4 separate regions of the Homo sapiens genome follow, and all the other regions are linked to region 4. Evidence: fine-mapped expression QTL. A gene starts in region 4. Each other region holds a variant in brackets. All regions are shown on one strand. Distances are between the middles of the regions.

Region 1 (5,151 bases), 230 kb after region 4:
GTCCTGGTTTTGACTTGGCTTTACTTAGTAAGACTAGTCTTTGGAACTTGCCCCACTCCATCTGAGTGGAAGCGTGGCCTGATCACCCACAGCATGCCTGCATTGGCACTTTTGTTCTGGTTTTGACTTGATTTGAATTGTTAGATACTTTAGTTTTGGTTTTGACTTGGCTTGAATTTTTTAGTACTCAGATTTTGAATTTCATGATTTTGGTTTGGTATAAACGGTAAAAGTGCGTGTGTGTGCCCTCTTTACCCATTCTTGTGGTGAGTATGTGTGGTGTGAGCATGGCATTTTGTCTCAGAAGAAAAAAAAAACATAGTTCAGGCACAAAGTAAGCCCACCCCACTAAGAAATATGTTAAAGAATTTCAAGAAAGAATTTAAAGGAGATTATGGTGTAACTGTGACCCCAGGAAAACTTAGAACTTTGTGTGAAATAGACTGGCCAGCATTTGAGGTAGGTTAGCCATCAGAAGGAAGCCTGGATGGGTCCCTAGTTTCAAAGATATGGCACAAGGTAACCTGTAAGCCAAGGCACCCAGACCAGTTTCAGTACACAGACAGTTACACCTGGTTTTAGACCTCCTCCCCCCGCCCCCCACAGTAGTTAAAAGAACAGCAGCATAAGTGGCTGGCAGAGGCAAGAAAAGACCAGCAGAGAGAAAAAGAGGCCATCTATACCAATTCTAAGTTAATTTAGACTAAACAAGGTCTTATTAATAGCAAAGGATAATTGAAGTCCCAAACTTACAAGGTTTTCAACAAAAGTGAAGTTTGCTAAAAGTTAACAGCGTAGCATGTATTATAGTAACTTCTAATCTGGTAGCCTTAGACAGTCTAGTCCAAAGACATAAAGTTTGCTTTAAAAAATTTTTTTATGCAAAAAATGTATAATTTAAAAGTAATAAGGCCTCCTATTATTGAAGAAACAGTTTATGTACAAGGTGTATAAGAAAAGTAAAATATACCTATAGTAAAAAGATTATAAGGAGGCATAAGAATGTGGATTTTTACCTATATTAAAAAGTTAAAAAAATTATTGTTTGAAAGTTTAAGCAAGTTTTAAAACATTAATTGTAAAGAAAATTCTGTGTGTAAACATATTAGCTAAAGTTAAAAAGGTATCATCCAGTTTTTCTGTGAAACGGACATCAAAGTAAAAATGCAACAGGTTTTTTCTTAAAGCATCAACCTGCTCTTTAACAAAAATTACAAAAAGTTAAAAAGAGTCTACAAAATCTAACCTTATGGTCAAACATGAAAAATTAGATAAATATGTCTACAAAGTTTCATTAAAATTAAATTTAACATTAGTAACACACTAATATAAAAGTAAAATTTAGCTTATCTGGTATAAAAATCATACAAGAAGCATTATTAAATATAAAATGGTGTTCAGCTTTCTTTGGTCTAAAAACTAATAAAAATCGGTGCTAAAGGAAGCATTCATTTTACTAGAGGATGATAGAAGTTAAAGACTTAAAACAAACTTTGGCAATTGAGACAGCATACCAAGATGCAAATGCCTGGTTGAAATAGATCAAATATTCCATCTGCACATTAAACAAAAGCAATTGTTATGCTTGTGCACATGGCAGGCCAGAGGCCCTGATTGTCCCCCTTCCACTAAGGTGGTCCTGTAGTTGACCAGGTGTGGGCTGCATGGTAGCTCTTTTCCAGGATTCTACAGCCTGGAGTAACATATAGCTCTCTCTGCTATATCCCGAAGTCCCTGCGGATCAGCCCCCGAGGGCCTTCCAGCTTCCGTCTCCCAATACTAAGTTCACTTCTTGTATCTCACGGCAGAGAGGAGATTTAGCATTCCTTGGAGACCTGAAAGGATGCAGTGAGCTTAAGAATTTTCAAGAGCTTATCAATCGGTCAGCCCTTGTTCATCTCTGAGCAGATGTGTGGTGGTATTGTAGTAGACCTTTAGTAGGCACTCTGCCGAATAACTAGAGTGGCACTTATGGTTTAGTCCATTTCACCCTGGTATTTCATCAACCAGAAAAAAAAAAAAGAAAAACTCATGTCAGCCCCAGCCCTGAGGCTACCTGACCTGACAAAACTCTTTGCACTCTATGTGTCAGAAAGAAAAAAAAAAATGGCAGTTGAAGTTTTAACCCAGACTGTAAGGCCCTGGCCAAGGCCAGTAGCCTGACTCTCAAAACAACTAGACGAGGTTTCCCAAGGCTGGCCCCCATGTCCAAGGGCCCTGGCAGCAATGGCCCTGTTAGCACAAGAAGCAGATAAGCTAACTCTTAGGCAAAACATAAACATAAAGTCCCTTTAATAAATAACAAAAGACATCATTAGCTAATAAACGCTAGACTAACTAGATACCAAAGCTTGCTCTGTGAAAATCCCCACATAACCATTGAAGTTTGCAACACCCTAACCCCGCCACCTTACTCCTAGTATCAAAGAGCCCAGTTAAACATAACTGTTTAGAGGTGCTGGACTCAGTTTATTCTAGTGGGCCCAACCTCTGAGACCACCCTTAAACATCAGTAGACTAGGAGCTGTACGTAGATAAGAGCAGCTTCGCCAACCCCTGCAAAGTGACTCTGAAGAAGA[T/C]GACAAGCCCTGCTGCAGTCACACCCGGAAGCTGACTGGTCCACGCACGACTGAAGCAGGAAGAAACTCATCGCAGGACTCATTTTCCTTAAAATTTAGACTTGTACAGTAAGGACTTCAACTGACCTTCCTCAGACAAAGAACTGTTTCCAGTATCTACATCAAGTCACTGAAGTTAGACAAAAGATTGCTACAGTCCTATTATTTTATAGTTATTATAAGTGTACCAGGATTCTAAAAGAAATTTGTTTGTATAATGCTATTCTATCCAAAGTATGTAGCCCAAGGAATAACCAACCTGATGTGTGTTATAACCCATTTTAAGCCTCCCATGATTACAGTTTTTAAAATAAAATTAAAGACTAGTCTTTTTCTAAGTGACACAAGTAAAATAATAGCTAGAACAGAAGAGGGGTCCCCAAAAATATAACCTTAAAATTTGATGCTTGTGCCACTATTGATAGTAAGCAGCATAGAATAAGATGCAGTTCTCTAAATTAGAAAAAAAGTTACACAGTTAAAAAAAAAAATAAGTATATCTGTCAAGAATCATATTTATGTGAGATGTGTCAATACTAGTCTTATGTCATTTGGGCTACTTAAAAAGAAGATAAAAATAATCCTGTTTAGCTCCAAAAAAGAAAAGTCAGCCCCTCTTGCATGAGTGGGGGCTGCAGCCTTTTAAAATTGATAATCACAAACCCATCAGACCCAAAGTACAATTAAAAAAAAAATGTAAATTAAGCATTGATGAAAAAAAACTAGATCCTAGCGTAAACATCCTAATAAAAAAAGAAGTTGAAAAATGCTCTCCAGAACCAGTATTTCAGGCTTTCTATGATGAAATAAATGTGCCAGTACCTAAGATTCCAGGAAAAACTAAAAATTTGTTTTTGCAATTAGCCTAACATGAGGCCCAGTCTCTACAAGTCACCTCATGTTATGTTTGTAGAAGAACTGTAACAAGAGATCAATGGCCATAGGAAGCCCGAGAATTAGTTCCTACAAACCCAGTTCCTGATGAATTCCCAGCCCAAAAGAACCACCCTGACAATTTTTAAGTTCTAAAAGTCTCAATTATTAGACGGTATTGCATAGCTAGAGAAAGAAAAAAATTCACTCATCATCCTGTAAGGCGGCTTAGTTGTCTTAGGCAAAAGTTGTATAATAGTACCACAAAAACAGTTACATACTAAAGTTCCAGTTACACAAAAAGAAATCCATTCAGTAAATTTCCAAAGTTGCAGACTGTTGAGGCCCACCCGGAATTCCACCAGGACTAGACGGCCCCCACCAGGTTATACCAGATACATAGACAGAGCTCATGCTAAGCTGCCTGATCAGTGGACAGGTAGCTGTGTAATTGGCACCAGTAAGCCATCTTTCCTCTTACTGCCCATAAATACAGGTGAACTTCTAGGCTTCCCAGTCTATGCTTCCTGTGAAAAACGAAGCATAGCCATAGGTAATTAGAAAGATGATAAATGACCTCCTAAAGAATTATATAATACTGTAAGCCTGCCACTTAGACACAAGACAGCTCATGAGGTTATCGAACCCCCATCTACATGCTCAACCGAATCATACAGTTGCAAGCTGTTTTAAAAATTATTACTAATAAAACCGGTCAAGCCTTGACTGTTCTTGCCCGGCAAGAGACTCTGATAAGAAATGCTATCTATCACCGGGCGCGGTGGCTCACGCCTGTAATCCCAGCACTTTGGGAGACTGAGGCGGGCAGATCACAAAGTCAGGAGATCAAGACCATCCTGGCTAACACAGTGAAACCCCGTCTCTACTAAAAATACAAAAAATTAGCCGGGTGCGGTGGCAGCACCTGTAGTCCCAGCTACTAGGGAGGCTGAGGCAGGAGAATGGCGTGAACCCGGGAGGTGGAGCTTGCAGTGAGCTGAGACTGCACCACTGCACTCCAGCCTGGGTGACAGAGCGAGACTCCATCACCAAAAAAAGAAAAAGAAATGCTATCTATCAAAATAGACTAGCTCTCGACTACTTGCTAGCAGCTGAAGGAAAAGTTTGTAGAAAATTTAACCTTACTAATTGTTGTCTACACATAGATCATCAGAGGAAAGTAGTTGAAGACATAGTTAAAAATATAACAAAACTGACACATGTACCCGTACAGGTGTGGCACGGACTCAATCCAGGAGCCATGTTTAAAAATTAGTTCCCAGCAATAGGAGGATTTAAAACTCTTATAATAAGAGTTATAATAGTAATAAAAAGCTGCTTACTGCTCTCTTGTTTGCTACCTGTACCTCTTCAAATGATAAAAAGCTTCATCGCTACCTTAGTTCACCAAAATGATTCAGCACAAGTGTACTATATGAATCACTATCAATCTATTACACAAAAAGACATAAGTAGCAAAAACAAGAGTAAGAACTCCCACTAATAAAAAGTGAGACTCTCAAAAAGAAGAAATAAAGGAAGACAGAGACCCTCTCATATTGTTTTATACTCAGTACCTGTTTTAAGAAAAAACAACAAGAAAGTAAAACCAAAGACAGGCAGCCCCGGGGCCAGGCCCGAAACCAGGCCTGGGCCTGCC
Region 2 (5,151 bases), 37 kb after region 4:
GAAGAATCTCAGAGATTATTTTCTGGGTTGCCTTTGGCATTCGGGGTATTTTCAGTTGCAGATCAATAAGCTTTCAGTTGTGTTTTGGAAGATGAAATGATCATTTGGAGTGTTTCCTTTCCTGATGTTGGGGTCTAATTGCATCATTAGAGACATCTCTGTTTTATTGGTAGGTTTCAGTGGTATTCCCCTGTGGGGTGGAGTCACTATGAGTGGAAATACGTTGCCCTGGGTCAGTGAGTTCCTGGGGTGTTTGTGTATATTATTCCATGAGTTACTGGGGCTTGTGAGATTTCATAACAGGGCTTCTGGATCTTTATGAAGTATCTGGGGATTGTGGGATCTTTATGAAGTATATGGGGAGTGTGGGAGTTTGTAAGCGTGTCTGAGTCCAGAGGGCAACGGGGATCCTAAGAATCAGGCGCAGATGGCTTTCATTAGGGAGGGTTTGTTGTGGGGGCGTCTGTGGGTGCAACTCAAGAGGGAGTGATTATCAGGGTCCCAGAGTAAGGGAAAGATTTCTCCAAGAATCAGAGTGAAACACAGCACACTGACCTGCGGCCCAAAGGCTTCCACTGGGACTGTCCTTGGGAAGATAAAGCTGCCACATTCTTGCAGCCAGGCCGGTGGCCTCTCCCTGTTTATTCCAAGATAACAGAGTCACAGAGTCACAAGGCAGCTGGGGAGCTGAGGGGCAAGGTCCTTGAAACCCGCTGTGGAACATGGACCTTTCTCCAGTGCAGAGGGGCCACGGGGCCCTGGGAAGGGAGTTGGAGGGTTACAGCCCTGGTCATGGCAGGGAGACGCAGGAACTGGAGGCAGGAAGAGCTGTGTTCATCCCCACAGGGTGCCCCTCCGCTCAGGAATTTGTGCAATAGAATGGGGTGAGCTAATGGGGTCACATTTAGGGAAAGGAGTCTTTCTGTCCACCCAACACACATCTCATCCTATGCACACGCTTCTCCCTTTCCCCGTTGTCCTCTCTATGATGGGAAACTAATGCTTCCCCAGGCGGGTGATTGAGGGAGAGGACGGGTTGGTCTGTTTGTCTCTCTCCTTTCTCCCCTCCCTCAGGTCTCCTGCCTGCCTTTCTGCTGCTCTGTTCAGACTCTCACTTCCTGCAGTTCTGCAGTCAGTTTGCCCCACGCAAGACCCAAGGATCTGGGTCTGTGAATAATATTCAAGCCAACATCATTGCCAAGTGAGAAATCTTAGACCCCAGGACCTTTTTTCCATGGAGGGGCCTGGGCACAGAGACAAACTCTTCTTTTTGCAGAATTTAGGGTCTTTTATTGGCCACGTGGGTCTGCTGAGCCTCAGACAGGGATCCCATAGTCAGCCAGATGTGTTTCTGGGTGGACTTGCGCTTGCCCTTCCACAGGTTGGTAAGCAGAGTGGTCTCCATGAAGGGCCCTTGGCTCTGCCCCTCAGTTAGTCCTGCTCAGCTCCCTTCTCACGAAAAAGACCACCCCAAGGACAAACATGCAGTCCACCCCTGCATACATCAGTCTCCCAAAGTGAAGACCATAAAAATGGCCTAATATTTCATTCATTCATTCAGTTATTTATTTATTTTGAGACGGAGTCTCGTTCTGTCTCCCAGGCTGGAGTGCAGTGGTGCGATCTCAGCTCACTGCAACCTCTGTCTCCTGAGTTCAAGCAATTCTCCTGCCTCACCCTCTGGAGTAGCTGGGACTACAGGCATGTGCCACCACTCCTGGGTCATTTTTTTGTATTTTTAGTAGAGACAGGGTTTTACCATGTTGGTCAGCTGGTCTTGAACTCCTGACTTCATATGATCTGCCCACCTCGGCCTCCCAAAGTGCTGGGATTACAAGCATAAGTCACCGCACCTGACCATATATCATTTCCTTTTAATTATTTACTTATTTAATTTTTACTACACTCCCATTTTAGCAATACTAATATTTCATTTAATGTTGCTATTATTATTTACTGTTATTGAGACAGAAGCTTTGTGTTAGACGCTGATCTCATGTAACGTGACTCTTTTATAATTGTGCTTAGGATTCCACGGGAGATGAGTGAATAAACGACTGAACATTGTGCATAAACAGACAATTTATATATTCATAAGATTAAGACATTTTGTATTCCTCATCCGTTATGCAAAGCAAAGACTAGACACTCTGGAGTCATCTCTCATGAGAACAAACCTGCGGACAGCTGGGAAGCACACCAGCCACCAACTGGGAGTATTAAAAAGAGCAATCCAGTCTCCAAATCAAGGGGAGGGTTCAAATCATAGACAAGCTGCAGAGCCACCGGGTCTCAGAGTTTCCCGCGGAAACGCTGGGACTCGCTACCAATCCCATGAGCGCACCTGGGGATTTTAACGTCTGGTGGGATGGTGGATTCCGAGTGTGGTTGGACAGGGCTGGAGTGCCCTGAAAGGCCTGAATGCTCTCCTGCCGGTGAGAAAACTGGAAGCGGATTCTGGGAGGGAGCTGTCGCCAGCGAGAGGCGGGTCTTGGATAGTGGGGAGAGGCCAGGTGGGGAGGGTGGAAGCCACCGTGAGGTGGGGTCTGGGCAATGGGAAAGGGGTGCAAGAGGGTCGTGTGGGAGGGTGGAACTGCTGTGGGCGGGGCCTGGGCAGTGGGGAGGGGGCGGGGTGAGGAGGGTGAAAGTCGCCCTGGGGTGCGGTCTGGGCAATGGGAAAGGGGTGGAAGAGGGTGGGGTGGGAGGGTGGGACTACCGTGGGGGCGGGGCCTGGGCAGTGGGGAAGGGGTGGGGTGAGAAGGGTAAAAGTCGCCCTGGGCTGGGGTCTGGGCAACGGGAAAGGGCTGGAAGAGGGCGGCGGGATGGGAGGGTGGAAGCTGCTATGGTGCAGCCTGGGCTGTGGGAAGCGGGCAGGGCCGGGAAAGGAGCGGGCCTGGGCTCTCTACTCCTCTTGGCCCCAGGTCATTTTCTGCTATGTCAGCCTTTCTCTCCACTAGGACTGGATCAACAGCATTGCACTGCTAAAATAAAGTTTCAGCTAATTGAAATTAGCCGGGGATGCTTCCTGCTTATTTTCAGTTAATAAGCAGGGATGCTTCCGGCTTATTTTCAGTCCAGGGAC[G/A]CTTCCTGCTTATTTTCAGTTAATCCAACATTTCAAACAATTTAAGGCAAAAGAACAGAATGGTACTGGGCCACTTAATTGAAGGCTAAGGTTTTTTTACTCTTACATTGAAAACGATTTAAGTGAAAAACTCATTTTGTTTGCAGGTGGAGACAGGCATCCTACCATTAAGAGGATCACAACTCATCTTAGCTCAGGGTACCAGGAGGGGTGCAGGGGCATCAGCGGATGGTCCCTGTGGGGCAGTGGTTTCATCCTGGAACTGGCAATTAGAACCGTTTAATTAATCCGGGACCTGATTTGTCTGTTTAGAGGATGAAACGAAGGTGAAATTTCTACTTGTGCTGTGTTCAGTTTCATAGTGACAACGATCGGAACATCGTTTCCATTTCTATTTGCCAGGCACCGGGATGGAAGAAAGAGAACTCTGGGCTTAGGTCCAGGGGCGTTTCAAGGACCCTGGACCAGGGTGTGTGGAGGAACGGTATCTGGTAATTTAGGTCGCCAACCATTCCCTTAAACATAAAGAATACTTTTTAAAATAGAGGAATTATAGGGAAAATCTCAGAGATAAATTTCTGGGTTACCTTTGGTATTTTGGAGTATTTTGTGTTGTAGATCAAGAAGCTTTCGGATGCATTTTGGAAGATAAAATAGTTTGGAGTGTTACCTTGTATGATATCGGGGTCTCATTGGAGCATGTGCATCACTAATGCCTTGTTTCCTTATCTTTCAATTGTTGATCTATTACACAATTGTAAGGGAATTTTAAATGTATATGGCTTTGAAATGAAGTTGGTGCATCTCATTTTTTCAATTAGCTGAAATTTTCCTTTAGCAGTTAATGATGTCTCTTATGTGTGACAGGAACATTCAGTACACCCACAGTGAAGGCTGAGTGCCCTTCAAAGCTTTTTTCTTCTGTTTTTTGTTTTTTGAGACAGGCTCTGTCACCCAGGCTGGAGTGGTGCGATCATAGCTCACTGCAATCTCACACTCACTTCAGCCTCCTGAATAGCTGGGACTATAGACATGCACCACCACACCTGGATAATTTCTAAATTTTTTTGTATAGATGGGGTCTTACTATGTTGCCCAGGCTGGATTCAGTGCCGAGTCTCAAAGGCCAAGGTACCAGGGCAAGTTCATTAGTTTTGAGTTTCACTTGGTGTTATGTGTTGACAATGTAGAAGCCGATTTTGACCCTGTAATCCTAGCAGATAGCAAAGGTTAAGCCTCCCCCTTCCATCCTTTCTTCTTTTTTTTTGTTTTTTTAGATGGAGTCCTGCTCTGTTGCCCAGGCTGGAGTGCAGTGGCACGATCTTGGCTCATTGCAGCCTCTGCCTCCCAGGTTCAAGTGATTCTCCTGCCTCAGCCTCCCTAGTAACTGGGATAACAGGCGCTGCCACCGCGCCTGGCTAATTTTTGTATTTTTAGTAGAGACAACGTTTCACCATGTTGGCCAGGCTTGTTTTGAACTCCTGACCTCAGGTGATCCACCTGCCTCGGCCTCCCAAAGTGAAGTGCTGGGATTACAGGCATGAACCACCGTGCCCGGCCAGAAATATCCTTTTTAAATCTCTTGTGAATATGTTGATTTTGCTTCAATGAAAATGTATAAGCATTTAAACTCTGCATATACAAAATGGATTCATGGCTTTCATCTATAATCAGATTCACCCCTACTATTCTCAATTTAATGAAAAGATCCAAAATCAAATCATTTCTTTGCTTGGGATCATGGAAGTCCATGCTGAAACTGCTTTCTTGTCAACATAGGTACTTAGCAATATTGCGTAACACAGAGCAGTCTACCTTGCAAAAGTCCCCAAATCTATCCCAGACACCATATCTTTTGAAACTGTAGATGTAGTTGTGAAATATGCTATTTTTCCTGTCTAAACAATTGTATTTTCAATTAATCACCACTTTTCCATTGATGAAATCTTCCACATGTGGGGATGTGAGAGGCAAACATACTTCAAAGTAGAGGTAAATTCACAGATGTTGCCATAAAATTATTGCTAGTAGATACGATGCCATTTAATATTTGATAATCTAGTTTTACT
Region 3 (5,151 bases), 23 kb before region 4:
TTCTCTTTGGGTTGAAGTAGCTCTGAGGCTTCTCCCTGTCCCCGGCCTTTCGCGTCTTCCTCCCGCTTAAAACCCTTTCCTGACCCCTCCTCCCGCCCCGGGCTTTTTAAAGTCCTCGCCCGCGAGGTGGATTCCCGCCCTGGGTGCCTCCCAGCCTCGCCCTCGTCGGCCCCTGGAGCGCAGCTCCTCAGCCCCGGTACCGGCGAGGCCGCGTCCTCTGCCTGGTCCTGGCATCCTGCAGACCCCACCCCTCTTCTAAGGCGCCGTCGCCCCGCCACCTCCCTCCTCCTCGTGCCGGGCCCTGCTGCTCCCCAGGCCTCCCCTTCGCAGTCCCCGCTTCTCCTGAGCCCGCGCTGGGGAGGTGCCCGGGGCCTGTCCTGTGACACCCGGTGTTCTTGCCTGCCCAGCTCCAGCCCCTGGAAAATGCGCTCCTCCAAGATGCAGGCGTCTTAGTCCAAACCTTCCTGTGAATGTGTGGACCAAGGGGATTAGCAGGTAGAGAAAGGGGCAGAGACAGAGAGAGAAGTAGAAAAACTGAGAGGAAAGAGTGAGGGAAACCCGTAACCAGATGGCAAAGTAGAGGATGGGCGAGGGATTTGCAGATGGTAAGAGAAGGAGCTGAGAAGGCAGAAGGAGAAAAGCAACTGGGGAAATGTAGAGAAAAGCTCGATGTCCAGAGACATGAAGGACAGCAAGGTAGGGAGAGGGCCAGAAAGTGGGAGGCTCCTCAGACAGAGTCCGGGAGAGGAGGAGGGATTTGGAGCCAGGGCAGACAAGCAGCGTGGTGCTGGGACAGCAAGAGGGGACAGCCGGTGACGAGGAGAGCAGAAGGAGAACCACAGCAGGGGGAGGCCTGGGATCTGGGGGTGCCAGAGAGTGGGGCAAGAGGTGTAGAAGGGAAGAGGAGATTCAACAGAGGGAGCAGAGATGGGAGAAGAAAGAGGCAGAAATATATGGAGACTGGGGACAATGAAAAGACTGGGGAGAAAGAGGAATCAGAGTTGAAACAAGGCCCCAGAATGGGACAGAACAGGTGCAAGCGGAGGAAGAAGGGGAGAAATAGCAGGAGATGAGAGGGGCTCAGAACGACGCGCAAAGAACCAGGGGAAAAACACAGAAAATAAAAAATAAGCTAATGTGAGAATGAGAGCTATGTAGAGGATGAGGGAGGGAAACACACAGTATGGAAGCAAGAGAGGGACCCTGAGTCCAGGTGAGTGGTGCGTTGATTAGATGTGATGATGACATTGTGACATTGGTTTCTGGGTTTAAAATAATGCAACACATTTAAAATACGTTTACTTAAATTATGCAGTTGCAAATGAGAATGGAAGAAACTCCTTTATGTAAAATGCGTAACACGTGCATTTGACAATTATTAGTATTAGGGTATAGCTTCATTTGCAATCACTATTCAAACCAGAGGGCAGTGACTTCGCTCATTTAGTTTTGAGTCCACCCACTTCCCTTTTCCTGGAATAGGGTAGGGTGTGGGCGAGTGTATGAACTAAGAGGAAAAAATATTTTTCCTTTGATTTTCTTTCCTGTCACACTCAATACAACAGGGCACATTCTACACAGTGTCTCGCCTCCACTCACGAAAATGTGTGCGGATTTCTCCCACCAACAACCCGTTCTCTATCAGACACTAACTGAGTGTCGTATAGTTTAACTCAATTCTGAAACTCTCTACCTGGAGTTAGCATCAGATCCCACTGATTGAGGCTCAGTTCCACGAAATTGCCCCCGCATCAGGTGCCAGTTGTAAGTCTCCCGTTGGTACCTGAACTTCTGAGCGACCAGCTATACACTGGGGATTCCCTTGACATCCCCCTCCCCACCACCTCAGGTTCTATTAATTTGTGAGGGCGGCTCAAAGAACTCAGGGAAAACACTTCACTTAGTTTACACATTTGTTATGAAGGATATTACAGAAGATACAGATGAACAGTCAGAAGGAAGAGCTGTCCTAGAAAGTTAATCAAAGCCGAGGAGGGGTTAAGAGAACCACAGTATTTATCAGGTCACTCAAAAGTATAAGTGACAGTTACCACTGGCATACTGTGTCTGAAGTGAGGGGCAGTTTTAGACTGAGCTCTGAACCTGTAGCACCTCGTCATGCAGTCTTTTTTTTTTTTTCTTTTTGAAACAGTCTCGCTCTGTTGTCCAGGCTGGAGTGCAGTGGCGCAATCTTGGCTCAAGGCAGCCTCTGCCTCCCGAGTTCAAGCGATTCTCCTGCCTGCCTCAGCCTCCCAAGTAGCTGGGATTACAGGTGTGCACCACCACATCCAGCTAATTTTTGTATTTTTAGTAGAGACGAGGTTTTGCCATGTTGGCCATGCTGGTCTCTAACTCCTGGCCTCAAGTGATCCTCCTGCCTTGGCCTCCCAAAGTGCTGGGACTACAGGCATGAGCCACTGTGCCCGGCCCATGCTGTCTTGTAGATAATATCAGAGTTGAATGAAATTGTAGGACCCCCGCCTAACCCCCCCCCCCCCCCGAGCTGGGAGTCCCCTGGGAGTCCCCTGGTCATTGTGGGAAAAGCCACACACACATTTTGGTGACTAGAGGTGAAGTATTCTGTGTTTAGTGTGAGAGCAGAATGTAGAGTTGGGTTTTTTCCTATCTCAAAGACTAAAGGAAAAGACCTCCAAGTGGCCCACCCACCTGTCAGGACCTGTGATCTCTACTCAGTAGTGACTGGGAATGGCCTGTTCCTGCTTCTGGCTGCTGCTGGCCCTGCAATTGTGTACCATGTACCAGCCTCACTCACAGTCTCAGGACAATATGCGTGCCATCAATTTTAACTTTTTTTTTCCTTCACAATCTGTAAAGCTTTCAAAATTTTAACTTCAAGGGAATTCATCCCTGTACCTAGGGAGTGGTGTTCTCCATTAAGACACGTACACAGGGCT[G/T]GGCACAGCGGCTTACACCTGTAATCACAACACTTTCAGAGGCCAAGGTGGGAGGATTGCTTGAGTCCAGGAGTTCGAGACCAGCCTGGGCAACATAGCAAGACTCCGTCTCTACGAAAAATAGAAAAAAATAAGCTGGATGTGGTGGCTTGCACCTGCGCTCCCAGCTACTTGCAAGGCTGAGGTGAGAGAATCGCTTGAACACGAGAGCTTGAGGCTGCAGTAAGCCATGTTCATGCTGTCACACTCTAGCCTGGGCAACAGAGTGAGACCCTGTCTCAAAAACAAAAAACAAACACACACACACACACACACACACACACACACACACACACAGAATAAAGTCTTTTTTTCTTCTACGCTCCATCTTTAAAACAAAAAATACTCTAAATTGGCCAGGCACGGTGGCTGACGGCTGTAATCCCAGCACTTTGAGAGGCCAAGGCAGGTGGATCCCTTGAGGTCAGGAGTTCGAGACCAGCCTGGCCAACATGGTGAAACACTGTCTCTACTAAAAATACAAAAATTAGCCAGGCATAGTGGCACGCGCCTGTGATCCCAGCTACTCTGGAGGTTGAGGCAGGAGAATCGCTTGAACCTGGGAGGCGGAGGTTACGGTGAGCCGAGATCGCAACATTGCACTCCAGCCTGGGTGACAAGAGTGAGACTTCATCTCAAAAAAAAAAACAAAACAAAACTCTAAACTACCTTTCAGTCTGTAGTAAGTACTCTTCTATGCTCCGTTTAAGAGCACAATACACTACAATTTTTTTTTTTTTTACTTTATGTTCAATTCTTGCCTTCAGTCCTTGCTTGAACTCTTGCTTGAATCAAGCTCTCATACCCAACATTCCACTGATCCTTTCTTTTTCATTTACCAGTGATGGATCCATTTGAAATTCAATGTTTAATTTCCTGTCATCTTTCCATTCCTATCAGTAGCATGTGGCACAGTTGCTCACTTTCTCTTCTATTTTCTTGGCTTTTAGGACATCCCGTTAAGCTTTACACATCTATTTGTTGTAATTTTCTTGTTGCCTCCCTAATCACATTATGCTTTCCTCTTCTTGTGTCTCCAGAACTTTCTGTTCTCTGAACGTGGGCTTAGTCCTCCAGCCACTTTTTTCTCTGTCCGCACTCATTGCCTTTCCTTATCAACTCAGCTCATGGCTTTCAACCCCACCTGCACAGCTTCATGTCACCTGCAGGCCTCTCCTGTGAACTCTAGATCCAGCATCTAGGCCTCCCAAAGTGCTGAGGTTACAAGACGTGAGTGACCGTGCCTGGCTAAATTTATTACTTTTTTTTTTTAAGAGAAATGGGGTCTCACTATGTTGTTTAGGCTGGTCTTGAACTCCTGGCCTCAACTGATCTTTCTGCCTCAGCCTCCCAAAGTGCTAGGATTATAGTGTGAGCCACCACGTTCAGCCTCTACCTTTTGTTTCTGAGGCCTGAGATTGGCCTGCAATCCACAGAGAGGTGAGGGAGGCTGTTCTCTGCATGGGGTTTGGTCAGGGCTTGGTCTGTGCCCTGAATGGGGGAGCTCAGTCCAGCCCAGCTCCCAATTGCTGCAGCGTGTGTGTGGGCTTCTCCAGGAGGAGAGTGGGTTCTGAAGAAAGGGGTCAGAAACTCACTTATTGATCTTCCCATAGGAGCTTCTTGTCCCTGCATTGCCCTGGTGCAGTGGGCAGCTGAGACCATCTTTCCACAGGGTGAGGTCTTCCCTGTGTGTGTGTGTGATTGTGGCATAGGAAGGGGATGTGTTGATTCTGAGCAATAAACAGCACATTTTGGATATTCAATATTGACTTCTAAAGGCACTTTCCTGTTACCTAAGGAAGAACCCTTGAAGAAGAGGAAGAGGAAAGAAAGACAAGTCAGGCATGGCTCTCACCCAGGTAAGGTAATATTATCAGTGGATTGTTCTGTCTCTTATTTCTTCTTGAAATGTCATTCTTTGAAGTTGGGAATCTTCTCTGAGTCTGAAGCGTCCTGCCTGACAGGTTTGCTCGCACTTACGCGTGCCTTCCCTCAGTCCCTCTCATCTCACTTAGATTCCATCTCTCGTGACCCAGTGACATGAGCTTGGGAAGAGGCTGCACTGGGCATGGTCCTGGGAAGGGCTCACACCCAGACATGGATGGAGACGGGGTGAGGGTCCTGTGGTGTCAGTGCTGTTGGGCAGCAGGGATTGTTCAGGGGCCACATCTGGATGCACTGTCAGCTCTCTGTGGAG
Region 4 (5,151 bases):
AAGACTCATCTTGTCACATTTCAGTAAGAGGCAGAATCGAGATTTGAATCCATGTTGTCTGGTTGCAAAGACAAAGCTTTTAATGATGATGCTACAGTAACAATGCTAGTTATTTTTGTCCTTTACTCACCATCTATACCTATTTTGTTAGTATCTCTTGTAATTTTTAAATGGTTTATCTTCATATATCATTGTGATTGTGGTAACTTTGTATTAAATCTATATTTTTATAGATCAATTAAGTCTATATTTTATAGATCACTATTGCGTATGCATCTTACCTAAATGAATGACAGAGACACTCATTACCACATAATCCTGTAAGAACGATTATCCAATCTTTCGAAGGAGGCATCCAGTACCTGAGGTGTTAGTTCTAGTGGTGGCCAGGCGCTGTAGCTCACCCCTGTAATCCCAGCACTTTGGGAGGCCAAGGGGGGTGGATCTCCTGAGGTCAGGAATTGGAGACCAGCCTGGCCAACATGGTGAAAACCCATCTCTACTAAAAATACAAAAAATAGCTGGGTGTGGTGGCGCGTGCGTGTGGTTGAAGCTACTCAAGAGGCTGAGGCAGGAGAATCGCTTGAGCCTGGGAGGTAGAGGTTACAGTAAGCTGAGATCACACCACCGCACTCCAGCCTGGGTGACAGAACAAGACTCTGTCTCAAAAAAAAAAAAAAATCACTAATAATGACAAAGTGCATATTTCTTGAGCTGAGAATATTTTTGTATCTGTGTTTCCATTGTTCGTTTCCAAAAACAATTACAGGTTGCTAATACACATCAACTGGACTGTTCAGTAGAAGCTCCTGTGTTTCTCATGATCTCTGACAGCATCCAGGGGTTCACATGGAGAAAGCAGAATATGCTGAGGTCTGAGATTTGATGGATGGTGATGTTGGAAATCTTTTTATGTGCCCATTTATCTCAGTATATCTGCTTCAGTGAAATGTCTCTTCATAGTTCTATCCATTTTCTAATTTGATTATTTTGCTTTTTTTTTAAGTCGTTCTAGGATTCTTTATACATTCCACATACCAGTTTTATGTCAGATATATGGTAGGCAAATATTTTCTATTATTCAGTACTGTATTAGTCCATTTTCACACTGCCTAAACCCTCCTGTGACAACCTGAGACTGGGTAATTTATAAACAAAAGAGGTTTAATTGACTCACAGTTCCGCATGGCTAGGGAGCCCTCAGGAAACTTACAATCATAGAGGAAGGCAAAGGCGAAGCAAGGCACGTCTTGCTTGCAGCAGGAGAGAGAGCGATCAAAGGAGGAACTATCACAGATTTTTAAACCATGAGATCTCCTGAGAGCTCACTATCATGAGAACGGCTTGGGGAAAACCACCCCCATGATCCAGTCACCTCCCACCAGGTCCCTCCCTCAACACCTGAGGTTTATACTTGAAAATGAGATTTGATGGGGACACTGAGCCAAACCATATCAAATACCTTTTCTTTCATCGTCTGAAGGTCTTTCACAGACCAAAAGTTTTTAATTTGGTAAATACCAGTTGATTTTTTTTTTCTTTAATGAATCATGCTTTTGCTGCTATGGCTAAGAATTTTTGAACAAGCTCTTGATTCTTACGATTTTATTGTGAGTAATTTTTTCTTTCAGTCTCCTACAGGATACCATTTTATGGTTTGATATTTTACATTTAGGCTATGGTCAATGTTGAACTAATGTCTGTACGGTTGTGAAGTTTGAGTAGAGATGACTTCTTTCCTGCTGTGGATATTAAGTTAGCCCCTCACCAGTTTTTAAAAATTCTTCATTCAATTCCCTTGGTAACTTTGTCAAAAATCAGTTGGAAGTACCTGTAGAGGCTATTTTTGTACTCTCTTACTGTATTGCATCAATCCATATGTCTTTTATTGCCCCAAAACCACACAGTTTTTATTACCTTTCCTATATTGGTAGTCTTGAAATCCAGTGGAGTGATTCCAGACACTTCATTTTTGTTTTTTGGTAACTTTTATGGATCCAATCACTGCTAGTTTTGGATTCCCCACCGAAATCCCAGTTCCCGGACTGCTAAGCTGCAGGAGACTCCCTAGCAGGATCGGGTCCAACCTGCAGGCAAAATAGTTTTAACATAAACCGTTTTCAACTTGGTAAGTGGAAAACATTTTGGTTTCCACCATAAGTGGCCCACACAACTCTGATTTTTTTACCTTAAAGCGGCGCAGACCCCGCCCACTCCAGCCATTCCTTCAGGCTGCCCGGGCTCTTCTCTCCGCGCATGCGCAGTTTCCTACAGGCCCGGAAACGGATCGCGTTGGGTGAAGGTGACGGCGTCGAGCGTGAGTGACCCTCTGTGTAGATTAAACCTGCGCTCCCTGTTTCCCATTTCCACAGCCGATGTCCAGGGTCGATACGGCCCTTAAAATCCCCGTACACTCCACCCCAGGTGAATACAGGCCTCGCAGTGTGGGTCCGGAGTCGCTTCCCTTTGGGTTGAAGTCGCTTTGAGGCTGCTCCCCGTCCCCGGCCTTTTGCTTCTTCCTCCCGCTTAAAACCTTTTCCTGACCCCCTCCCCCATCCCCGGGCTTTTTAAAGTCTTCACCCAAGAGGTGTATTCCCGTCCTGGGTGCCTCCCAGCCTTGCCCTCGTCGGCCCCTGGAGCGCAGCGCCGCAGCTGCAGCCGCAGTCCCGGGGAGCCTTGCGTCCTCTGCCTGGTCCTGGGATCCTGCAGACCCCACCCCTGTCTGAAGGCGCTGTCGCGCCCCACCTCCCTCCTCCTCGTGCCGGGCCCCGCTGCTCCCCAGGCCTCCCCTGAGCCCGCGCTGGGGAGGTGCTCAGGGCCTGTCCTGTGACACCCGATGTTCTTGCCTGCCCTCCTCCACCCCGTGGAAAATGCGCTCCTCCAGGATGCAGGCGTCTTACCCCAAACCGTCCTGTGAATGTGTGGGCCAAAGGGATCGAGGGACAGAGAGAGCAGTAGAAAACCTGAGACAGGAAGGAATGAGGCAAACCAATAAACAGATGGCAAAGTAGAGGATGGTTAGAGATTTTCAGAGACAGTAAGAGTGGAAGAAGAAGCCGAGAAAGTAGCAGGGAGAGAAAAGTAACTAGACACATTTCGAGAAAAAGCACAGTATCCAGAGAGATGAAGGACAGCCAGGTAGGGAGAGGGGCAGCAAAGGAGGAGGCTCCTCAGACAGAGAGTGGGGGAGAGCAGAAGGGATTTGGAGCCAGGGCAGACAGGGCAGTGTGGTACCGGGACAGCAAGAGGGGGCAGCCGATGACAAGGAGAAGCAGAGGGAGAACCACAGCACGGGGAGGCCTGGGATCTGGGGGTGCCAAAGAGTGGGGACAACGGTGTGTAACAGGGAAGAGGGAATTTAACAGGGAGTGCTGAAATGGGGAAGAAAGAGCCAGAAATATGTGGAGACTGGGACAATGAAAAGATTAGGAAGAAAGAGGAATTAAATACATTGCAAGAATGGAAAGAGCAAGTGGAAGAGAAAGAATAGAGGGAAGACGGGGAGGAGCAGCAGGAGAGGAGAGGGGCTCAAAATGAGCAGAATCCTAGGGAGAAAATAAAGGGGAAGGAAAGAGCTAGAGAAAGAAGGTGAGAATGAGAGCGATGTACGGAACGAGGGAGGGAAACACACCATAATGAGGAAAGAGGGGGACCCCAGGTCCAGGTGAGTTGTGAACTGACTGGATGTGATGACTACCTTTTGACCTGTTGATTTCTGTCTTTATAAGTTTAAAATGCACAGATGATGAGAATTGCAAAGCTCCTGTCTATTAAGGCTGGTGCATTTTATAATTATGGCATCAGAAGTTAGCTTCCACTTGCAATCCCTGTTAAGGCAGAGGGAAGTGACTTGACTCATTAATTCCACAGGTCATCCTCTTCCCCTTCCCTGGCGTTGGGGCAGGGGGAGGGGAAGGGGGAGTGGGAGAGTAAAGCTGGGCAGAAAGTGAAAGACTGTCACTACATAGTGTCTCTCTAAAGCAGGGGTGTCCAATCTTTTGGCTTCCCTGGGCCACATTGGAAGAAGAATTGTCTTGGGCCACACATAAAGTACACTAACACTAACAATAGCTGATGAGCTAAAAAAAAAAAAAAAAAAAAAAAAAAAAGTTGCAAGAAAATCTCAAAATGTTTTAAGGAAGTTTAGGAATTTGTGTTGGGCTGCATTCAAAGCCTTCCTGGGCTGCGGATTGGACAACGTTGCTCAAAAGGAACATTAAAAGTGTTGAGGCTGGGCATGGTGGCTCATGCCTGTAATCCCAGCACTTTGGGAGGCCGAGGTGGGTGAATCACAAGGTCAGTAGTTCAAGACCAGCCTGGCAAAGATGGTGAAACCCCATCTCTACTAAAAATACAAAACTTAGCCAGGTATGGTGACACGCATCTGTAATCCCAGCTACTCAGGAGGCTGAGGCAAAGCATTGTGTAAACCCGGGAGGCGGAGGTTGCAGTGAGCCAAGAGCCGAGATCCGGTGACAGAGCAAGACTGCGTCTGAAAAAAAAACAAAGAACAAACAAAAAAAGTGTTGTTGCTTTTTGTAATTGATTTGCTTTTTTTCTTACTAATTCCCTTTCATCTCATGTATAGTTCATTTTGCAACTTGAGATAGATCTTCATTAATTCAGTTTCTATTTTTCTGTATATAATTATTTCCAAAGTAACTTTGGTGGCATCCTATAATCAGCTCATGGCATTTTCTAAATATAATGTGTTTTCAATTTTTTTAGCTCCAAAATTCATCAGATATTTCTTAACAATTTCAAAATCTTTCCCTTTGAAATTAATTGTGTCCAGTTTTGATAGAGGTCTGCATGCTTTCTGCTCTTTATTATATAATAGAAGCATTATTTGTTGACTAGTAGGTAATTTTAGATTGTTTCAATGTGTACCTGATAAAGATGTCAATGATGTTTTTACCTTAACATGGAAACCTAGTTTAACTAGTCTATTATTCAATTTTCTTCTTTTGTGTAATTTGTTAAAATAGTAAGCTGTGAGCTGCATTTGGAACCAATGTGATAAAACCTTGAAGAAGTTTCTTTTGCTCAGATATGTGAAAGAGGGTCTGGGAATTTTCTTTTTTTCTTTTCTTTTTTTTTTTTTTTGTGAGCTGGAGTCTTGCTCTCTCACCCAGGCTGGAGTACAGTGGT

The links. PIP is the estimated chance that this variant, and not a neighbour inherited with it, causes the effect. A credible set is the group of variants that fine-mapping cannot tell apart.
Region 1: its variant is the best candidate, but not a certain one, in a credible set for the expression of ZNF415 in prostate (GTEx, PIP 0.68).
Region 2: its variant is the best candidate, but not a certain one, in a credible set for the expression of ZNF415 in whole blood (INTERVAL, PIP 0.68).
Region 3: its variant is the best candidate, but not a certain one, in a credible set for the expression of ZNF415 in whole blood (INTERVAL, PIP 0.56).

What each region holds. Positions count from the first base shown.
Region 1 is chr19:52,898,871-52,904,021 of GRCh38, reverse strand. It overlaps a transcript of ZNF320 not described here. Among named protein-coding and RNA genes, the nearest start is that of ZNF320, 3.8 kb to the right of the region's middle. The variant T/C (reference allele first, on the strand shown) is at 2,580.
Region 2 is chr19:53,092,644-53,097,794 of GRCh38, reverse strand. All of the region lies in intron 1 of ZNF160 (zinc finger protein 160), which reads left to right. Among named protein-coding and RNA genes, the nearest start is that of ZNF160, 8.2 kb to the left of the region's middle. The variant G/A (reference allele first, on the strand shown) is at 3,083.
Region 3 is chr19:53,153,395-53,158,545 of GRCh38, reverse strand. ZNF347 (zinc finger protein 347) reads left to right here. Exons shown (of 5, transcript NM_032584.3): 2 at 4,753-4,813. The coding sequence starts at 4,799. Among named protein-coding and RNA genes, the nearest start is that of ZNF347, 3.1 kb to the left of the region's middle. The variant G/T (reference allele first, on the strand shown) is at 2,916.
Region 4 is chr19:53,130,022-53,135,172 of GRCh38, reverse strand. ZNF415 (zinc finger protein 415) reads left to right here and starts at 2,263. Exons shown (of 4, transcript NM_018355.4): 1 at 2,263-2,317. ZNF347 (zinc finger protein 347) reads left to right here. Exons shown (of 5, transcript NM_032584.3): 5 at 1-238.